Homo sapiens: one gene and its partner. The protein of the gene in region 1 interacts with the protein of each later gene in a pairwise test. Each region holds a gene or a part of one and is shown on either strand. Other genes may lie near its edges.

Region 1 (12,823 bases):
TATAGGATATAAATGTGGGCATGAATGTAGGAATAGCGTTTCAGTGGCATGACAGCTGTGGCATTTGGAGTCGGCATGGATGTAGCTGATAACTTGTTAGCTCTGCAAAATGAATCCAGTGCGTCAGAGGGTTTCCGCGCTACGAAGCACCCACCACCAGCACCAACGCCAAGTATTGGGTTGTATTGGAAACACACTCAAACATTCAATCATTTCTCATCCGTGTTGAATTTTACATAAATATAGCCGCGCCCAATTCTTCAGTGCAATATTTCCAATTATTGTGCCAGCATTCAACAGTGAGTTGAGTAGCCCTTACCAGTGTGTCGCCACAAGATGGGCTTTCCCCACAGGTCCAACCATGGCTCCTCCCCTGTACAGACTTCCAACAGTGCCACTCTCATCCAGTGCCTAGCCCTCCCCAGTTGCTCTTCCCCTATCGATCCCTGCAGTACACATCCCTTTCAAGACTTGCCTCCGAGCAATCTGCACTACTGATTTTGAGCATCATTCCACTCCATGGCAACTGAACTGATGCGAATTTGCTTTTCTGCCTCTCTTCTCTCCATCATCATACTAAAATGTACTATTTTCAAAGGTTCAACTTCTTTTTCTTCATTGTACTGCCTCCTCCCCCACCTCCACTCCCACCTCTAAGCATTCCCAACTAAATACAATAATTTGAATAAGGCTTTGTGGGTACTGCAGATTCAGAAGGTTTCAAGTGTGTTAAAGAACAAAGAGCTGGGGAGTATTGGTTATGGAAATTCCTAATTCACCTTACTCTCCAAGACTGAGACCCTGATGGGAAAAAAAAAAGTTAGTAAACTATCCTTAGAGCATGCTCATTAATGAGTTTGTGGGGGTAGGAAAGGGGAATTGCGTCTCTCGAATATTTTACTCAGTTAGAGTCAGATCTTTCTCTGAATGGGATCAAAATCAGAATAAGCGTTTTGGTCCAAATGCTCGCCCGACAGAGGACCCATAAGGGATGCATACGTCATTTGACTTTCCTATTTACGTATTTAGTGTTATCAAAGAATTCATTTGCCTGCTTAATGTTACCTTGTTTAAAGGTTTGGATTAAATCCGGCATATTCTGGGGGAGGAAAAAATGATTTCATTTGCTTTTACACTGTGCTAGTTCTTTTTAATTTAAGTATGTACTAAAGGACATGACATTCATTTTCAAACAATGATAAATGATTGTGGAGAGGCCAGCACCCACCGACAACATCAACTGGATATCATTATTCTGCTCTTGTTTTGGGTAGGAATGGGGAAATGTATATACTTATTTTTAAAATGTGAGAGTAGGGGGAGGAAAACTGGAGCATTTCCCTTGACTTTCAACAGGTGGAATTCCCATTACTCCCCATCCAGAAAATGATCGAGTCAAGTTCATAACTTCTGCTCTTTAGTTACCTTATAAATAATAGTATTTTGGCATCTTACAGAACTATGGATCTATTGTACCTTGGCATCAATTCAGAGGCATTAATTCTGGGCACCTACCTAATCATTTAATTGGTAAACAAATATTTATTATCTCCATGGAGGATCCTGGTGCTGCACACTGAAGGGGCTTCAAAGATGTATACAGTGAGCTTACTATCTAGGAATTTAAAATTGATCATGTAAGAAAGACAGGAAAAGTTTGTTAACAAAATAAGTCAGTATAATGACATTATTTCAACTGTAAACAATGAGATCCTGAGCTTGCATGTTAATTTGTAAACTCCCTGAGGGCAAGACCTTGCCTTAAACATTTATTAATTCCCAACAGTATCTACATCCAATGGATGTTTGAGTGATGAAGCTTTGCAAAGTAGATTGAGTGGGGAGACACCAGAAGCAGGGAGAGAAGAACTTTCACAATAGATTAGATGTGAGAAATTGTGGGCCAAAATGAGGATGGTAGCACAGGACTAGAAAATGATACTTCAAGGGAAAATCAGCAGGATTGAATGAAGGCAAGGAGACAAATCTAAACTGTATTCATTTTTACTTCTAGAAAATAAATGGGAGTTGGAGACAGCAGAGGAGAGTGGAGGGTTTCCTTAGTAAGGACACAACACACAATAGGCACTGTAGTGTTTTCTCAAATATCAGTAGCAAGATTGGACCAGAAGACCCTGAAGGTCCCTTCAATGCTGAGATTCTGTGCCATATGCAGATGTTCAAGCTTGTTGAGGAACAAGGCATTCTCAAATATGGAAGAAAGAGAAAAGGAAGAATTCTTATACTTTCACTAGCAGGCCCTTTCTGAGAAGGGTTAATACTGAGCCACAAGGCCCCCACCAGTGCATGAAAGGAGGTGGAGGAGCCAGAGGAATAAAAATCTCAAACCAAATTTTTCAAAAAATGCTTACAAATCTTTGCAAACTTCATAAGCTTTTCATTCTCCCCCAAAATCCTGTTAAGTAGGGCAGGTATTATCTGCTCTATTTTTATGTAAGAAGATACTGAAACAGAAAGATTAAATGACCTGCCCAAGTTCATAAAATAAATGAATGGTGTAACAGTGATGAAGACCCTGGTGTCCTGATTACTGCCAGCTAGCTCAGTGCTCTTGACACTGAACCACATTGCTTTTCCTCTTTTTCCCTTGGCATAGAGCCTATAGGCCCAGAAGTTATGTGTGCACATAACCAAATAGGGAATGCACAAGCAACTGCAGCATTATCTCAGACAGTTATTAATACATCATCATTATTCCTGGAGCTGAGCATTTGGTTTCCATATTCACTCAGTCCTTGACCTGTCTATTGAGTTTATCTGCAACTGGGAGAATAGGGTCAGTGAGTCTTTTAATGATGTGAACGCCTGTTTGCTAGGAACTCAAGGAAGCTTGTGTGGCCTGGACGCTTAATACTAGCCATCAGAATCATGCCCAAGTTTGTACTTCTGTTGCTTTTCAAAATGAGAGTTCAAGAGTTTTGCTCTGTAAAATTATCCTACAGACCAGTATAAAAAAATAAAAAAGTGTGCTAACACTTGTTTCATCTCCATTTAAAGAAATGTTTGTTACTTGAGCTAATTCCAAAGACAGCAATTTGGGAGCAGGAAAAAGAGGACAAAAATTAGGAATTGTAGGAAACTTGAGAATTCTGTAGAGTGTATATAAACCAAGAAGGAGGATAAAGCCTATCCATTTAGGAGATATTATTTAAATTCATAATTACTGATTTAGATATCTAATGAATCCTTATTATAAGTTTTATCTATATTTAGAAAATAACATGTGATTATTAAGCAGCAGATTTTTTTTTAAAGCTTCGTTCTTCCTCAGTAAGAAATAACACTACACAGATCTAGGCACTGTTTTTCTTCTTAAACCAGTACTCTTGATGCTGCTTAAATAAGATTCTTGCCATAATTAATTATAATATTAGATGAATGTATATTTAAATTTAATAACACCAGCTAAATATTAAAACTGGTGTTTAAGACAGATGAACTGCCAGGTACAGCGGCTCACGCCTGTGAACCCAGCACTTTGGGAACATGAGGTGGGCAGATCGTTTGAACCCAGGAGTTTGAAACCAACCTGGGCAACATGGTGAAACCCCATCTCTACAAAAACTACAAAACTTAGCCGGGCATGGTGGTGCATGCCCGTAGTCCCAGCTACTCAGAAGGCTGAGGTGGGAAGATTACTTGAGCCCAGGAGGTCGAGGCTGCAGTGAGCCATGACTGCACCACTGCACTCCAGCCTGGGTGACAGAATGAGACCTTGTCTCAAATTTAAAAAATAAATAAAGAAAAGAAAAATGACCTAAACTAATTAATAAAATAATTAGCCAAGATAATATACTTTATTGTAAACAGGAAGCCCACAAACACAATTTTTTTCTGCTCTCTAATTATGTGGAATCAATTGCAGAGACAACCTTGAGACAGACTGGTGAGTGCACTAACAACTTTCTTGGAGATGGGAACGTTGGTAGGTATAAAAGGAAGAAGTTTCATCTCCGACTTAGGATTTCAGCATATCTTAGATTGCTCTGTACTTTCCTTTTCCTGAATGTCATCTATTGTGAATATCATCTTTCTTTAATTTGCTTTTACTTTGAATGGAGAATTCAATTGAGAGACAATATAAAATGTAAAAAATTATATAAATTACAAATTAGGATAAGTTAAAGTTCTTGGAATAAAATTATTTTGCTTATGTTAAGCATAGGTAGCATTTTGAACTTTTATTTTTGAAAAGCACCCTCTGTAGGTTACTTGAGGTTGCTGTGGGTTCTTTTTTTTTTTCTGACTTGAATATATTTTTATATAGAGCCTTAACGTTATTTTATTATAGATTTTTTTAAAATAATGTTTTCTATTCTGTTTTATAGCACCCTAAAAAGAAAGAATAAAACAACAACAGGAAAAAAAGGAAAATATTTAAATTGTGACAAAAACCCACTGGGTAGGTATTTCAAGGGGGCACACTGTGGATTTGGGATATTTTAATATTTGATCTCTTAAAAATGAATATTTAGAAAAATATATAGCTAGTACATAGGCATTCCAAAATCATTTTAAGGGCTACTAAATTTTGTAAAATTATATTCAAATGTGTGTGCTTCCAGAAACTGTTTTGCATGCACTCCTTCGATTAGTGATTCGTTTTCATCCCTTTGGGTCTATTGTATAAATATCATCCAATTAACCTCATCACCGTTGAGTTCCCACAATAGACCTAGTGGGAAAGTACCTAACAGAATATAGGAAAAGGTAGTATTTGTTCAGTAAGCATTTGATCTTTTTATTTTAAGACACATTCTAGGTGTTCCATGTGTAGACATGTTGTGGAGGTAACAAGTAGGGTACTGTATAAATATTAGCACTTTAAATTTTGCAGTATGTTTTCAAATGTTGCTATTATGGAATTAAAACCTGAATCCAAAAACTAATAAGCTATTCAAGATTTCCTTCCTTCATGACAGCTGTTATATTGATATCAGTCAATTGTCATCAACTTAAATGCCATTGTTCCATGAAGAAAAAAATATAGAAGATCCTTACTTGAGAGGGTGTTCCTATCAATGCAAGTATAATGGGGTAAATGCCTGAAGAAACGTAACCTTGTTCTCTCTTTCAAATTCTGGGGTGCAGTCTAATTCTGGCCCAGACCTCTACCGACAGAATCAAGAATCCAGTTTATGTAGCTTTCTCTTCTCAGTAATTTTTGTATCCATCAGGAGCAGACTTCAAACCCCAAGTCAATTTCATACTATTTGTCTATTGTTTGGAACTGTCCAAACCGGAAGCTAAAGTTGTCACACATTTGAGTGGCATTCCTGTTCTAGGCTTCCTCTCCTAGAATTGGGTCAGAACTGAACCAAATTACAGGACCATCTGCTAGTCCATTTACCCATGGCACTCAGCCATTTTCCTGGCACAACAAAAGACCTCAGAAAAACAAGACCTATTTTTCCCCTTATGCAAAATTAGTGTTATTTCTTCTGCTGTACTACATCAATTAATGAGCATAAATCAGAGAAGTTGAATGAGAAGGCCTTATAATTCAGAGAAATTTGCTATGAAGTTGATTTCAGTTTCAGGTTTAACTGTTTTCCCTCCTACTTTTCCTTTTATTTTCAGGTTCTCTTGGTTACAAACTCCTTCCCTTCTGGTGCTGCAAAAATGAGTGGGAAATCCCTGCTCTTAAAGGTCATTCTCTTGGGTGATGGTGGAGTTGGGAAAAGTTCGCTTATGAACCGTTACGTAACCAACAAATTTGACTCCCAGGCTTTTCACACCATAGGGGTAGAGTTCTTAAATCGAGATCTGGAGGTAGATGGACGCTTTGTAACCCTCCAGATCTGGGACACTGCAGGGCAGGAACGTTTCAAGAGCCTTAGGACACCCTTCTACAGGGGAGCAGACTGCTGCCTCTTGACCTTCAGCGTGGATGATCGGCAGAGCTTCGAGAATCTTGGTAACTGGCAGAAAGAATTTATTTACTATGCGGATGTGAAGGACCCTGAGCATTTCCCCTTTGTAGTTCTGGGTAACAAGGTAGACAAAGAGGATAGGCAAGTGACTACTGAGGAGGCACAAACCTGGTGCATGGAGAATGGGGATTACCCTTATTTAGAAACTAGTGCCAAAGATGATACTAATGTGACAGTGGCCTTTGAAGAAGCTGTCAGGCAGGTGCTGGCTGTAGAGGAACAGCTGGAGCATTGCATGTTGGGTCACACCATTGACTTGAACAGTGGCTCCAAAGCAGGGTCTTCGTGCTGTTAAAGATAGGGAGCCTTTTAAAAATGTGCCCCAAATTGATCAGTCAGTAGTGTAAGAATAACTGTGCCCCTCTAAGAGTGCACACACACGCACACAAGAGGGTAAGAGACAAGGTTCTGATTGTGAAACAGAGCCTTTCAAATTGAAGTGTAGATTGATTTAAAAAAATTAAAAATTAAAAAAAATGAAGCTCTATCAAGCCAAGTGTATTTTGCGTGATTTCTGCTATTTCCCCTTCTTGTGTGTCTCAGGACATATCAGAAAATTTTAGTCCTGAGACAGTTAAATATTTTTTAAATCACAGTTTAAACCTAGAACCCAGCTGCATGAAGGAGTTAAAGAGCTACAACTATTTCTTAAAGTGTTCCATTAATCAACTAACAAATGTCACTATCAGACTCTTGCCAAGCAGTTTCTGACATTTCTGCCAAAGGGGAAAAAAATCAGACTTTGAGCTGTATTACAATAAAAATAATAATGCAAATAAGGATTCCTAGGCTTGAATTAAAGAAGTTGTAATGATTAGGAGTGCAAAAGTATAATGATATACACTGACTTGTTTAAATCCTTATGTATGGTTCGCTCCCATCTGAGCTTTTCAAAAAATCCCATCTCAATAAGAGATACTCTAATGACACTGGCAATTGATTATACTTCTTGTGTTTGAAGTCATAGGATACTAGTGAATGGATTATGCTTAAATATGCCAACCACCTTTGCAAATAAATGGTTGGTCTGCTTTTAATTCCTAAGTCTACTTTTGCTGCATAGAGATGTTGCTTCTCTGACAACCTCTTACCAATTTAGCAATGCTGCTTAGTATATGAATTTGGATGCAGTGCTCTCTGCTCATCATTTAGATGGTCCTTTGATCCAACATGCTGGGCTCATGGAGAAGGCTTCATAAAAGATTGGGGGATAATGAACTTTTCTCACAAGGCTCCTTAACTCAAATATTTATTGCAGAAGAAGGAACTGGTTTCTTATATGTTGCACTGTATGTTCAACTAGCCTAATTAGGACATTGAAAGTGACAGAAGAGCAGATCTTAACCCAGTGTTAGAATGAATTTCCCATAAACAGAGTTGTCCAACAGTGGAATGGACTGCCTTAATAGTGAGCTCCCTGCCTCTGAAAATATTCACTGGATGACCATCTGTTAGAATACCATAAAAAGATTTTCTGTGCTGGCTACATGTTCAATATAAAGTCCTTTCTGGCTCTAAGTTCTATGAATATATAAACTACATCAGTGCCATGCTGTGGTTAGATTTATCTGATGATAACAGCTAAGACTATGGAGAGGGACTTTAAAAATTCTCAAACCATTCTGTGATCAATCTTTAACAGCAACTACATAGCTCTTCCTTTTGCTTTTGCACTGTGGCAGGAAAAATTCTTGAGCTCTGAGTAATCTTTATGTGACTGATAAAAAACATCTTAAAGCTCCCATGTTAAAATATAAAAATGGTTTGACAATTTTTGATTACCATGACTGTCAGTTATATACTATATTATGAATATGCAGTGTGGTTCTTGTTGGTTGATCTGTTTACCCTGCATAGATTTTAATCTGTACTTTAAAACATCTATGATAAAAATAGTGACAGACAGAAATTACCCCAAAAAGAGACCTAGGCCAGGAAGGGGGTGGGAGCTTTCATAGGAATACAGCCTAGAACTCTCCATTGTAGCCACGTATGGAATCAGCCTTACTTACATGTAGGACCTTTGTGCTTTAAGAGCTCTGGGACATATTGGCCAAATAGAAAAGAAGAGGACAGTATTTCAACTCAGTCATACTCAATATTTCCAATTAAGATATAATCCTGACACCATTGTTCAATTAACTTTGACGCCAGAAGTCAAAGCCAGAACTGGGACCCCACAGCTCTTAAGTACTGGTCCCTATCCTGCCTATGCCTATAGCCAGCCACACTGGTTTCCAAGTTCTGTGATCATTTTGCTACAATCATGTTAGGGTGAAAATCTGTACGTCAGAACTGTTAAATGCTAATTATTTTTAAGTGCATGAGACCTGGGGCCTTCTCTTTCTACTTGCACTCTGCTTATACTAGTTTCTATTTGTAGATCTCAGGCCTTCATCATAAAGACCTCTATCAACTCACAAAAGTATTTGTCTCTATTAGAGTGGCATGTGGTCATTTGAGTAAAAAAAAAAAAATTACATGGGTATCGGATTCATAGGCATCCTGTCCATCTAAGACAAGTGTTAATTTTATTGGCCCATCAGCTGGAGCCCCTTTCCTCTTAGCCATACCATTGTTTTCTACCAAATTACCACTCAATATCTTAATGAAAGCACTCAACATTAAGTGACATAAACAGTGGCATTTGGGTAAGCAACACTCAGTGGGGTGCTGACATACAGTTTGGGTAAGATTAAAAAACACCAAAGGCTGAAATCTGTGAGTACCAAGAACTGTGCATATAGGTTTAGAAATTGACTGTGTACCCTAGAATGTGCAGTGTAATATTTTCAATAGGTGTTTTTTTAAAGAACACTAGATTTTTGGAATAATATATTTCTAATTAGGACTATACTGTTTTTCAATGGTCTGTTAAAACATCATACAGAATATTTATTTAGTTTATTGTCATGTATTGGCTAACTTTCAGGGGCCTCAGATTCCATATGTCTTCAGTGGATTGATGAATATCAGGTTAATTTGTGCCTGCCCCAGCCATCTCTACTTTATTCTGAGGTATTCCACAATCCTCTTGTTGCAGGTGCTGCTAAAAAAAACTCAAAATTGTGTATCAAATATTTTCTTTCAACTGTAAAAAATCATCTGTGTTAAAGTGAATAAAAAGTGCATTTTGAATAACCAGCACACAATGTTTGTGTTTATTCCCTCCCTTTCTCTTTTTGAGAAATTGGTGGGTGTGATGGACAGTACTTATTAATCAAGTCACTCTTTCAGGCTGCACTGGATGTGGCCTCTGGATCATGTTTCATGTGGTACTCCAAGCAGCCACTATCTAGTGATCAGATATTTCTATACTGATTGTGAAGCAAACTCTAAAGATTGGGGCAGGGAGGTCCTTTTTATTTTATACCACTTTCTTTCTATTTATTTAGTTATTAGAGACAGGGTCCCTCCATTGCTCAGGCTGGAGTGCAGTGGCGCAATCATGGCTCATAGCAGCCTCAAACTCATGGGTTTAACCACTTTCTAATGCATGACGTGTATTGGGACTGGAAATTGAATCTTAACTTTCCACTTTATTTCTTTATTATAATTTAAAACCATTACTTAATGGATACAATGTACACTATTCTGGTGATGGGTACACTAAAAGCCCAGATTTCAATCTGCAATATACCCATATAACAAAACTGCACTTGTGCCCCCTAAATTTATACAAATAAAAGAAAAAATATTATAATAAACAACGTTGCATAAAAAATAAGATAAATGTTAAACCATCAAAAAATATAAACAGAGTAGACATATTCCCTTTATTTTCCTGACTGGTGAATTGTCCAGACCTTAGGAAAACATGAAAATATAGGTGAAACAAATAAGAAAAGCAAAGAATAATTTTGTTAAATATTCTGTTCTCTTGCCTCTCACATATTGGATTTTAAAGATACATTAGCACCCAATGGCTTGAATATACATAATGGCGGTTTTAAAATTATGGACACAAATCTTTCCACAGCATATATAGTTTCATTACATTGATTCCATCTGCCACAGATTTCACTCTCTTCTCTCTGTCTACTTTTGCCTGTTGCAACTTTGGGCAGTTGAAATTGGGGGTGGGGAATTTGTTGGGAAACAGATTTTTTTTTTTTTTTTTTGCCACATGTACCATTTCCATCTCTGAGGATTATAATTTAACACATTATCAGACCATGCTTCAAATGCAGCACCCCAAATCATTTTGACTAGTCTATAATGATGCAACTTTTAGAATATAGAAAGTCATAGATTTATAAGCCACTTAATAAGGATTTGCTCATTTGTAACTGATTATTTTTTTTTTTGAGACAGGGTCTCGCTCTTTTGCCCAGGCTAGAGTGTAGTGGCCTGATCTTGGCTCACTGCAACCTCCACCTCCTGAACTTAAGCAGTCCTTCCACCTCAGCCTCCTGAGTAGCTGGGATTACAGGCATGCACCAGCATGCCCAGCTAACTTTGTGTGTGTGTGTGTGTGTGTGTGTGTGTGTATGTGTGTGTGTGTGTGTGTGTGTGTGTGTGTTTGAGACAGGGTCTTGCTCTGTTGCCCAGGCTGGAGTGCAGTGGCCTGATCTTGGCTAACTGCAACCTCGGCCTCCCGGACTCAAGCGATTCTCATGCCTCAGCCTCCCTAATAGCTGGGATTACAGGCGCCCGCCACCACACCTGGCTAATTTTTGTATTTGTTGTAGAGACAGGGCTTCACCATGTTGGCCAGGCTGGTCTTGAACTCCTGGCCTCAAGTGATCCACCCACCTGGCCTCCCAAAGTTCTGGGATTACAGGTGTGAGCCAATGCACCGGGGCCCATAACTGATATTTTAAAAACAGAATGCCAACTTCCTGTCTTTAATGTTTTTCTGCCTCATTCATAACCCAGTGGGAAATCTCCTCATGATGTCTTAAGAAACAGTACGGTCTCATTTTTTGGAAATGGTTTGGCGATAGTCCTTCCAGAAACAGGAAGGTGTGGAATACATAATTTGTCTTCCATCTTGTAACTGTAGTTTTAAAACACACTGGAAAATCGAGGTATCAATTTGAGTAATTTCAAGCTGGGAGGTGGGATGGACATCTCTACTTTCATTTGAATTACCCAAAGTAGATCTTGCAGCAATTTTTTTTCCTCAGTGATCTAGATAATCATTTCACTTTTTTTCTCTCTTTGCTGTGGAAATGTAAAATTTACTACAGTGCAGTGTTTTTCTTACACTTGATTTTAGGGCAGATAAACTGTAATATACTGTCTTAGCCCATTTGGGCTGCCCTAACAAAATACCATAAGCTTGGTAGGCTATAAACTACAGAATTTCATTTCTCAGCTCTGGAGGCTAGGAAGTCCAAAATCAAGGCATCCGCACATTCAGGGTCTGGTGAGGTCTTGATTTCTGGTTCACAGATGGCACCTTCCAGCTCTGTGGAAGGGGGAAGGGGTTTCTCCTGGGCCTCTTTTATAAGGACACTAATCCCATTTATGAGGGCTTCACCCTTGTGACCTAATCACCTTCCAAAGGCCCCATCTCCTTATAATGCCATAACCTTGGGGGGTTAGGATTTCAACCTATGAATTTTGGAGGGGGACAAAAAGATTCAGAGCATAGCATACACCTTTTGATAAAACGTTAATGTGCATGATTTGGGATATTCACTAATGTTTTCTTTTTCCAAACTGGTCATTTTAATTTCCTCAAGTTTCCATCACCAAAAGAGCTCTCATTCTTTACTACTTTCTCTTTAAGAGAAGGAAGGGATAATGACAAAAGCTAGGCATGTTTATGGAATAAAGGAAAAATTATTAAATGCCTTCTTACTGATATGCTTGCCAAAACTGGTGAGCAAGGATCTCTTATTCTGCTAGTGATGGTAGTGGTAATAATGTGTGAAAGGGTTTTTTTTTAAGGGGGCAAGAAGTTACTTAATATTTTCCCAGTGAAAATAAGCATCTTCACAGCTCAAGATGTGGCGTCGTCACCTGTAGTCATATAGAAACTGCTGCAGTGATCTTTGTGTCTTCATAAATCTCTTTGCCTTCTCCAAGGAAACACAGAGAATGATGATTCAGTTATATATAAATGTCTTTTTAAACAGTGGGTTTTGTGTGTGCAAGCATGTGTATTTTTAAGTAATCTGTCAGTTCCTTTCGTGCTGTATGAACTATGGGTAAATGTATAATGGTCTCACTATAACACTCCTGAATTTTAATCAGACCTGCCAAGCTGTGCCACATCTAGTTAACTGATTGATAAAAAGAATTGGGAAATGCTGCCTTAATGAAAGAAATAGCTCTTAATTCAACATTAGCTATATTGATTAGAGTAAAAATACAAATCACACTTTCCTGTGGTGCATTCATGAGGAAGCAAGAAACAGGCTCATATCATCTCTTTTCTCTTACGTTGTTCCTGGCTGCCTTAGAAACGACATATCCAAGGGTGTGTCCTGTAATATATTGCTCAACATAGAGTCTGTTAATAGATGAACAAGTGCCAGTAGCCTCTGAGTTCTCTCTTTTTCCATTTGTTCCCTGCTAGAAAACTTAGAGTGACCGATAAATGCTTTAAAATGTTCTTTTTTTCTGATTACAAAAGCCATACACATCCACCGTAGAAAAATGAAGTAATGAAAGAAATAGAAAAGCAAGATTTAAAAAATTAAAGTCATCTGTAATGTAATCCTATTAACCTGAGATAAGCAGATTTTAACATTTTAGTGTAGATTTTAATATATTTATGTATTTTTAAAATTGATTTGATACTGCACACACTGTAATCTTTTTTACTTAATATATATCTATAGTACTTAACTTTTCTCTAAGACATATATTCTTCTAAGATTATATTTGCTGTTTGCATAATATTGTATTGAAGGGTT
Region 2 (7,243 bases), on another chromosome or scaffold:
GAAAGAGCAGGCCCCCAAATGCAGTTAGAGGGCATGTTCTGACCCTGTGAACCAAATCATCCACAAAAGAAGTTCACATATTTGGGGAGAAAGAGATCAGGGCAGTAAAAGGTTTCAATTCTTCAGAGAGAGAGAGAAGCTGCCAGCCTCATTCCCAAACATGCCTGGACATACAGTCACATTCACCACCAATTGACAAACTGTCCCGGCCCCTGGACTCCCAAAACCCAAGAGCATGTTGCAAGCAGAAATTGGGTTTCACTCAAGGGCAGTTTCCATCTAAAACTCTAATGTGAACTCATTCTAATTTAACAAGACCCTCCTAGTAAATGTAGACTATGCTCTGAAATGCGTACTTTTAAAGTTGTAACAAACCAGGTGCTCACGCCTGTAATCCTAGCACTTTGGGAGGCCTAGGTGAGTGGATCGCCTGAGGTCAGGAATTCAAGACCAGCCTGGCCAACATGGCAAAACCCCATCTCTACTAAAAATACAAAAAATTAGTCAGGCGTACTGGCGCACAGCTGTAGTCCCAGCTACTTGGGAGGCTGAAGCAGAAGAATCACTTGAACCAGGGAGGTGGAGGTTGCAGTTAGCCGAGATCACACCGCTGCATTCCAGCCTGGGCAACAGAGCAAGACTCCATCTCAAAAAAATAAAATAAAGTTATACTCTGTTTAAGTCTTCTCATGTAGAGGTAGGTTCTCTTGTCTCTCCTTTTATTGTACTGGTACTGAATTTAGCAAAACAAAAAAAGCCGTGCATTCCAATAAGATACCAACTTTTCACTTAAGATACCAGCAAAGGGCCAGGCATGGTGGCTCACACCTGTAATCCCAGTACCTTGGGAGACCGAGGTGGGCAGATCACTTGAGGTCAGGAGTTCGAGACCAGTCTGGCCAACATGGTGAAACCCCATCTCTACAAAAATACAAAAATTAGCCAGGGGTAGTGGCACACACCTGTAGTCCCAGCTACTCAGGAGACTGAGGCAGGAGGATTGTTTGAACCCAGGAGGTGGAAATTGCAGTGAGCAGAGATCACACCCCTACACTCCAGCCTGGGTGACACAGTGAGACTCCGTCTCAAAAGAAAAAAAAAAAAAAAAAAAAGCAGCAAAGACATCTTTAAACAAGACCCCAAGCCAGGAAAAACTGGCTCTTCAGGTCAATTTTGATAAAAGAATTGGTGAAAATTTTCTGGATAACTTGACAATAGATATCAAGTTGGTCACCGCCTTTCATTTAATTCTACTTCTGGGAATATATCCTAAGAAGATCATCCTAAGTTTGGTAAAAGCTTTATGCATAAAGTTACTCATTGCAAAATTATGTATAATAACTTAAAAAGGCTGGTTGTGGTGGCTCATGCCTATAATCCCAGCGCTTTGGGAAGCTGTAGGTGGGAGGATCACTTGAGCTCAGGAGGTACAGGTTGCAGTGAACTATGATTGCATCATTGTACTCCAGCCTAGGCGAAGAGTAAGACACTGTCCTAAAATAATAACTGAAAAACAACAGAAGAAAACTAAATGTCCCACAATAAAAATGATACCTATGGTATGTCCACTCCATGCATAAATATTATGTCGCCACCCACACACTATGTTTAGGAAGAGATTATCACTGCACGAGGAAAAGGCTACATTGTAATATCATGGAAAAGGAACAGGATAAATATAAATTTCAGCAATAATAATGACAACATTTATTGCCTTGTATACAGCAGGCAAGCATTTAACTAAACAGCTTCAATTCTCAAAACTATAGGATATACACATTATCTCCATTTCACAGATAAAGAAACTGAGGATCAGAATTAAGTGCCAAAAGACATACAGCTGTAAGGGGCGGGCGGCGTTAGAACCCAGCAAGTTATCCCTCTGTGAAGCAAAATGTCCTCAAATGAGGACTGATTCTCTTTTCTGCCCCACAATCCCTACCATTGGCCAAGTGGTACCCACCTAGTGCTGAACTCCAGAAATCAGAGATAAACAGGTCCTTCCTGTTGAGAAAAAAAATGGCACAGTCATGTCCCACCCATCTCAGGGCTGCCCCAACAGTAACTTTCCTGATCATGACCTGAATGCTTACAGAATGAGGTGCCCTGCAATGCAGGGCCCACCCTTACCAAGTGATAGGAGGGGGATATATGTTGAATATGTCCAGAGCCAGAGCACATACTGCTGGGGCTCAGAGACTGCAGGAGAGAGTATGCTGGAGGAGGTCCTTGATTCCCAGAGAGAGATCTGGGTCTATTCTCAGTCTACAACAGAGCCTAGCATAGAATTGCAGCTCAATAAATGGTTGTTAAGTGCTCAGAATTAGCCTTTCTGAGCTTTAGTTTCCTCATCTCTAAAATGGGGATAAAAATCATTCCCAACACGGAGGAGTTTAGAGGCATAAAATGGGTTAACATTCTTAGCCCAGTGTCTGGCACATAGCAGGTACTCAACAAATGGTATTTGTTATTATAAATAGTTTTAAGGGGAAAGTAAAGAGACAAAACCAAGTGTCTGGGCTTTCTTTATTCAAGTCAACTGGTTTTACAGACCCAGAGCAAAAGAAAGTCAACAGTGAATTAAAATGAACTGGATTTAAACTGACAAGCCACAGCCAGAGACAGTGATTATGGGGTTCAGAAAGGAGTACAGAGAATTGAAAGTCGGCCCAGAGGCTGCTGCACGTTTCTCACAGAGGGTAGAGAGTTCTGATGTACACAGGAATGCTTTATGAACTGGTAAATGCGTACACAGATATGCGTGTAAAATGCTGGCTCAATCTCTACTCAGAGCGATGGTGATTGCACCACACTTGGGTGTTGGGAGAAGCAAGGAGCTCCTGGGGAATACTGAAGCAGTTGAGGAGATCGTGACAGTGTCAAGGGATATGAAAAATGCCTTGAGTTTTCCAAACCCCTAGGCACATTCACTCTCACTGGCATCCTCTGAGAGCTTAAAAATAATCGCAGGTGCTTTTTATTCAGGCTGAGCCAAATGGTCAGCAACTTTCTCTTCAGAGGTAAACTCTGGGACATTACTGCCTCTTGACCCTAATTCTAGGGGAGAGGAGCACACAAAATTAATCTAATTTCTCCCCTTGTGACGGCCCTTCGGATGCTGATCTTAAGTGCTAACTAAAGCTGTTATTTATTGAGCCTAAACAAAACTGCGAATAAAGATAATAATACTAAATAACAATAATAAGTAACATTTATTGAGTGTTTCCTCTGTATTAGGCACTCTCTATGTACTTTCTAAGGTACAGAGCAAGGTATGTGAGAATCTGGGCTGGGATAAGCAACAAGCATAATGGAAAGCTGGAAGCACTGGTTTTTGTCACAAAGACCTGGGTTTGAAATCTGGTTCCACACATTTTCTTTGTCTCTTTGAGAATCAGTGAGCTACCAGGGTCCTAGTATGCCTGCAATGTTTAACATAAAGTGTGTAGAATGATTAAGCTAATGTCAGGCACATAGCAGCTGCCTGATGATAGCAGTCACGTGTTCATGTTGCTTCCCTCGTGTCACCACCACCAATAATATCAACATCGGCATAATATTAATAGCAAACACTGGCACAGTGCTTACCACGTGCCAGAAAATGGTTTCCGTTTACTAATTCATTGAATCCTCAAAACAAACCTACGTATGTACTATTTTCATCCCCATCTCACAGATGAGAAAACTGAGGCACAGAGATTATAAATTGTCCAAGGTCACGCAGCTGTAACCGTAATAAAAGGAAAGACGACCTTTAACTGAGCGCTTACTATAATCCACATCTTTAATGAGCTCGTTACCTACGTTAACTCTTCACAATAACTCCTTAAAGGGTGTGCATTATATCTCCACTCTACAGATGGGGAGACTGTGGCTCAGAATTGCCCATGGGCGCAAAGATTCCATCAGGGCCGAGCCTGCACTCACTCAGCCTCCCAGATGCGACGAAGCACGACTCCGCTGTCAGACTCGAACTCCGCCTCGGGGCCCCGGGGCGCCGCCTCTCTCCCCCGGGGCGCCGCCTCTCTCCCCCGGGGCGCCGCCTCCCTCCGCCGCGGCCGTCGAGCCGCGGAGCGCCTCTTCCGCGGAGCCGCCGCCTGCCAGGATTCCAGCGCCGCAGCTGCGGCCGCAGCCATTGGTCTCTGACGTCAGCGGCGTGCGGCGCACTCGGCACGTCATCGCCGCGCGCCGGCTTGCCAGGAGCTGGAGGGGGAGGTAGGCGGGGCGGCGCGTGACCTAAGGCCTCTCTGCCGCGCGCGCAGGTACGGGGCAGAAGTCGCAGGTACCCAGCTGCTGCCCACATTTCTGGTCCAGAGTCCCGAACCCCGAGCACTGGGATGCCTGGCTACTCCGGTGGGTGGGCGGCGCTCGGAGCGCGGGGATACCGAGGGGCGGGCCCCCAGCTTAGAGCGTGACCCGACCCCGCCTAATCCTTAGGCGTTCGCCCACCATTTCCCAGTCCCGTAGAGCTGGGGCCAGACACCGCACAGCCCTAGTGCTGTTACCAGTCGCTGCCTGCGCCCCGGGGGCTGCGCCCAGCAGCTTCCTGGCCCTTTTCCAGCCATTAGCGTCCGTTTTCCAGCCCTGCTGCCCCACTGAGGCCCCTTCCCACAGCAGTATCACCAGCCCCAGCCCCGCGTTGTTACTATTACTTCCCAGGCTACCAGATCCTTTTCTGCTCATGTTCCGACGTCTCTTCCTACTCCAGGGCCATTATTGGTCTCTTCTGGACCTTTCAGAGATAAGAGAGGACCTCGGTAGTGTAGGGCCCAGTCCTCTGGGAACAAGGGATGGGGAGTTTTAGGCTGCTGTCCTTGGTTCCAGTAACAGAGATACCCCCTCCACAGGCACCCAAATATGCTCCATAGAATACAATGAGTGTGGTCCTGTGGAGGCCCAATCCAAAATATCTAGAGCTGAGAAGAGATAGAGATTTTACAGGCCGTCAAATATTCAATGGGGGTCGTCTCTAGAGACTTTTAACAAACTGTATTGTGTACCCACAGATTGCAGAATGGTGAGCAAACATTTGAGACCATGTTGCTAAAGCATTAAGCTTGGAGAAAGTGACAGTAAGAATTAGACAATAGTTTTGAAGTGACCAAGAGGTTGTCACATGGAAGAATTAGACCTTGTTTTGTGTTTTCCTGCAGAGCGTTATCCAGACTAGCGAGTGGGAGGCAGATGTAAAATCTGGAACGCAGATTTTAGTTTGTTGGAAGGAGAAATGTAACATAGTGAACCACGCATCTCTGGAGGGTGTAAAGCAGAGACAGCCAAGGTAATTTTTGGAAAAGAGTGCAGGAGAGTAGAGTAAACGATGCCAGGGTTCCTTCCGACTCTGAAATTCCGTGATACACTGAGCTGTCTTTCTCTTGTGGAAGTTTGAAAGCCATTTGATAAAGTTCTCTTCATTTTTTAGAAATTTGCCCTGCTCTGGAATTCTGCATGTTCAGGTTACTTTTGGACTGTCAAGATGACAGTTCCTTAATTTGGGTTCCATTATTACCACAGCAACTGGTTTATTTGTATAGCTGTCCACACCTAGAGCATTTTCACCCTGTCATTTGATTTTATCTTCCGTGAAGCTTGTGGTGTGTTTCCCTTAACTGTTCGAGAAACTAAAGCCCTTACTCTGAAGTCTCTGCAAGCCTCCCTCTTTGATTTTGAAGCATGATTGTCACCCTCACAGAAAGCTCTTTTGAAATATACCATTCGTTTAATCCTGCTGGGTCACATGCTCTCTCACGAGTTGCTGAAATATCTATTCCTTGTGTTTATTTCAGAGCCAAGGCACTGATGTTTGAACTGGAAACTTCAAAACGTTTAATAAGAGTCTTCAGGATGGGTTTGAACTAGACAAGCTAGAAATTTCTTTAGAACACCAGCTCTAGCATGCATCTCCCACTTTTGGCTTTCCTGGAGAGGAGCTTGAAGAGGTGGTTCTGCAGACAGCCACAGTGATACTTAGGAAACCAGAGGAATGGATTTGACTTTTCTGCTAGGATTCTCTGTTATAGTTTCTCCCTGAGTTGTAAGAGGCATGGAAATATACATGAAACTGAAGAACCTGCAAGGAAGGGAAGTGGAACTTTCCATGCTGAGTGAAAACTAACCAAGTGGCAGTTGTGACTGAAAACACTGAAACCTACCACGTCCAGATTCACTGGATTGGGGGATAGAGGAACGGTCACAGCTAGGGAGAAAGAAGTGATACCGGAAAAGAAAACCTAAATGAAGAGAATGAGGATGACTGCACAGTAGATGGCCACCTCTACCTCCACAGAGGCAAAGTCAGCCTCGTGGTGAGTAACAAGGCCTGCCATGGCATAGCTTTTGCTGGGCTGTTGGTTAGAGTTTTGGGGTTAATTGAAAATCCCCAGCCAGATTGTGTTAATTTTATTAACATAACAATAAAAATGCCATTTTCCTCAGAGCAGCTGAATCAAGCACGTGAGCCATCGCTCTCCAAAGCTAACATGTTTTAACCTTGCAAGCCTCTCCCAATGTTTGAATGAGTCTGGCATTGCTGGGAGATTGTAGAAAAGATAGCCACAGCCTGATCATGCAGCGAGCTTTGATGATAATGTGAATATTGTAGTCTTCAATTTGCAGAGATGAGGTATGGTTGCATTTGAGAATTACAGCATGAGGAGAGGTCTGGCCAGACTGGGTATCAAGGGGTATTACTCAATGTCTGTCTGAAACCCAGTTCCCTTCTCAACCCTAAATGCGTTAATCCTTTCCCATAATTAGGTTTAGCAAACATCAGTCATAGAGGAGATGAAGGTGAAAAGCAGGTTTAGCTAGAATTAGCAGGATTTAGTGACTGATTATTTATGTGGAAGTCAAAAAGATGGAGCAGTTCAAAATGACACCCAAGTTTTCTTTCGTGTGCCCGCACAAGCAGGGATGCTTTCATCAAGAGAACGTGGGGACAGGGGAGGATGGGGTGCACATGGAGTTTCTGAGTTGGCTTTGAAACTTTTTTGAGGCTTTTTGATCTGAGCTTACCCTGCAGCCAGTTGTACATCCAGCCTTAGGTATTGGGAAAGAGGACAGTGCCAAGAGACCAAGTTGGTGCTTTATTTATTTGTTTGTTTGTTTTTGAGACAGGGTCTTGCTCTATCCTCCAGGCCAGAGTGCAGTGGCATGATCTCAGGTCACTGTAGCCTCAATCCCCCAGGCTCAAGTGATCCTCCTACCTCAGCATCCCAAGTAACTGGAACCAGAGGCACACCCC

What was found.
Region 2: the proteins of RAB9B (region 1) and HPS4 interact in a two-hybrid assay, tested with the Homo sapiens proteins (one study listed by IntAct).

The regions. Positions count from the first base shown.
Region 1 is NC_000023.11:103,818,605-103,831,427, reverse strand, and holds the end of RAB9B (ras-related protein Rab-9B), read left to right. Parts: intron 1-4,349; 5' UTR 4,350-4,423; intron 4,424-5,601; 5' UTR 5,602-5,643; coding exon 5,644-6,249; 3' UTR 6,250-9,101; downstream 9,102-12,823. UniProt on the Homo sapiens protein: The small GTPases Rab are key regulators of intracellular membrane trafficking, from the formation of transport vesicles to their fusion with membranes.
Region 2 is NC_000022.11:26,480,784-26,488,026, reverse strand, and holds the start of HPS4 (BLOC-3 complex member HPS4), read left to right. Parts: upstream 1-4,243; 5' UTR 4,244-4,353; intron 4,354-5,153; exon of another isoform or gene 5,154-5,281; intron 5,282-5,786; 5' UTR 5,787-6,264; coding exon 6,265-6,305; intron 6,306-7,243. Other genes in the region: SRRD (SRR1-like protein), read right to left, coding at 1,964-2,004, 3,928-4,136.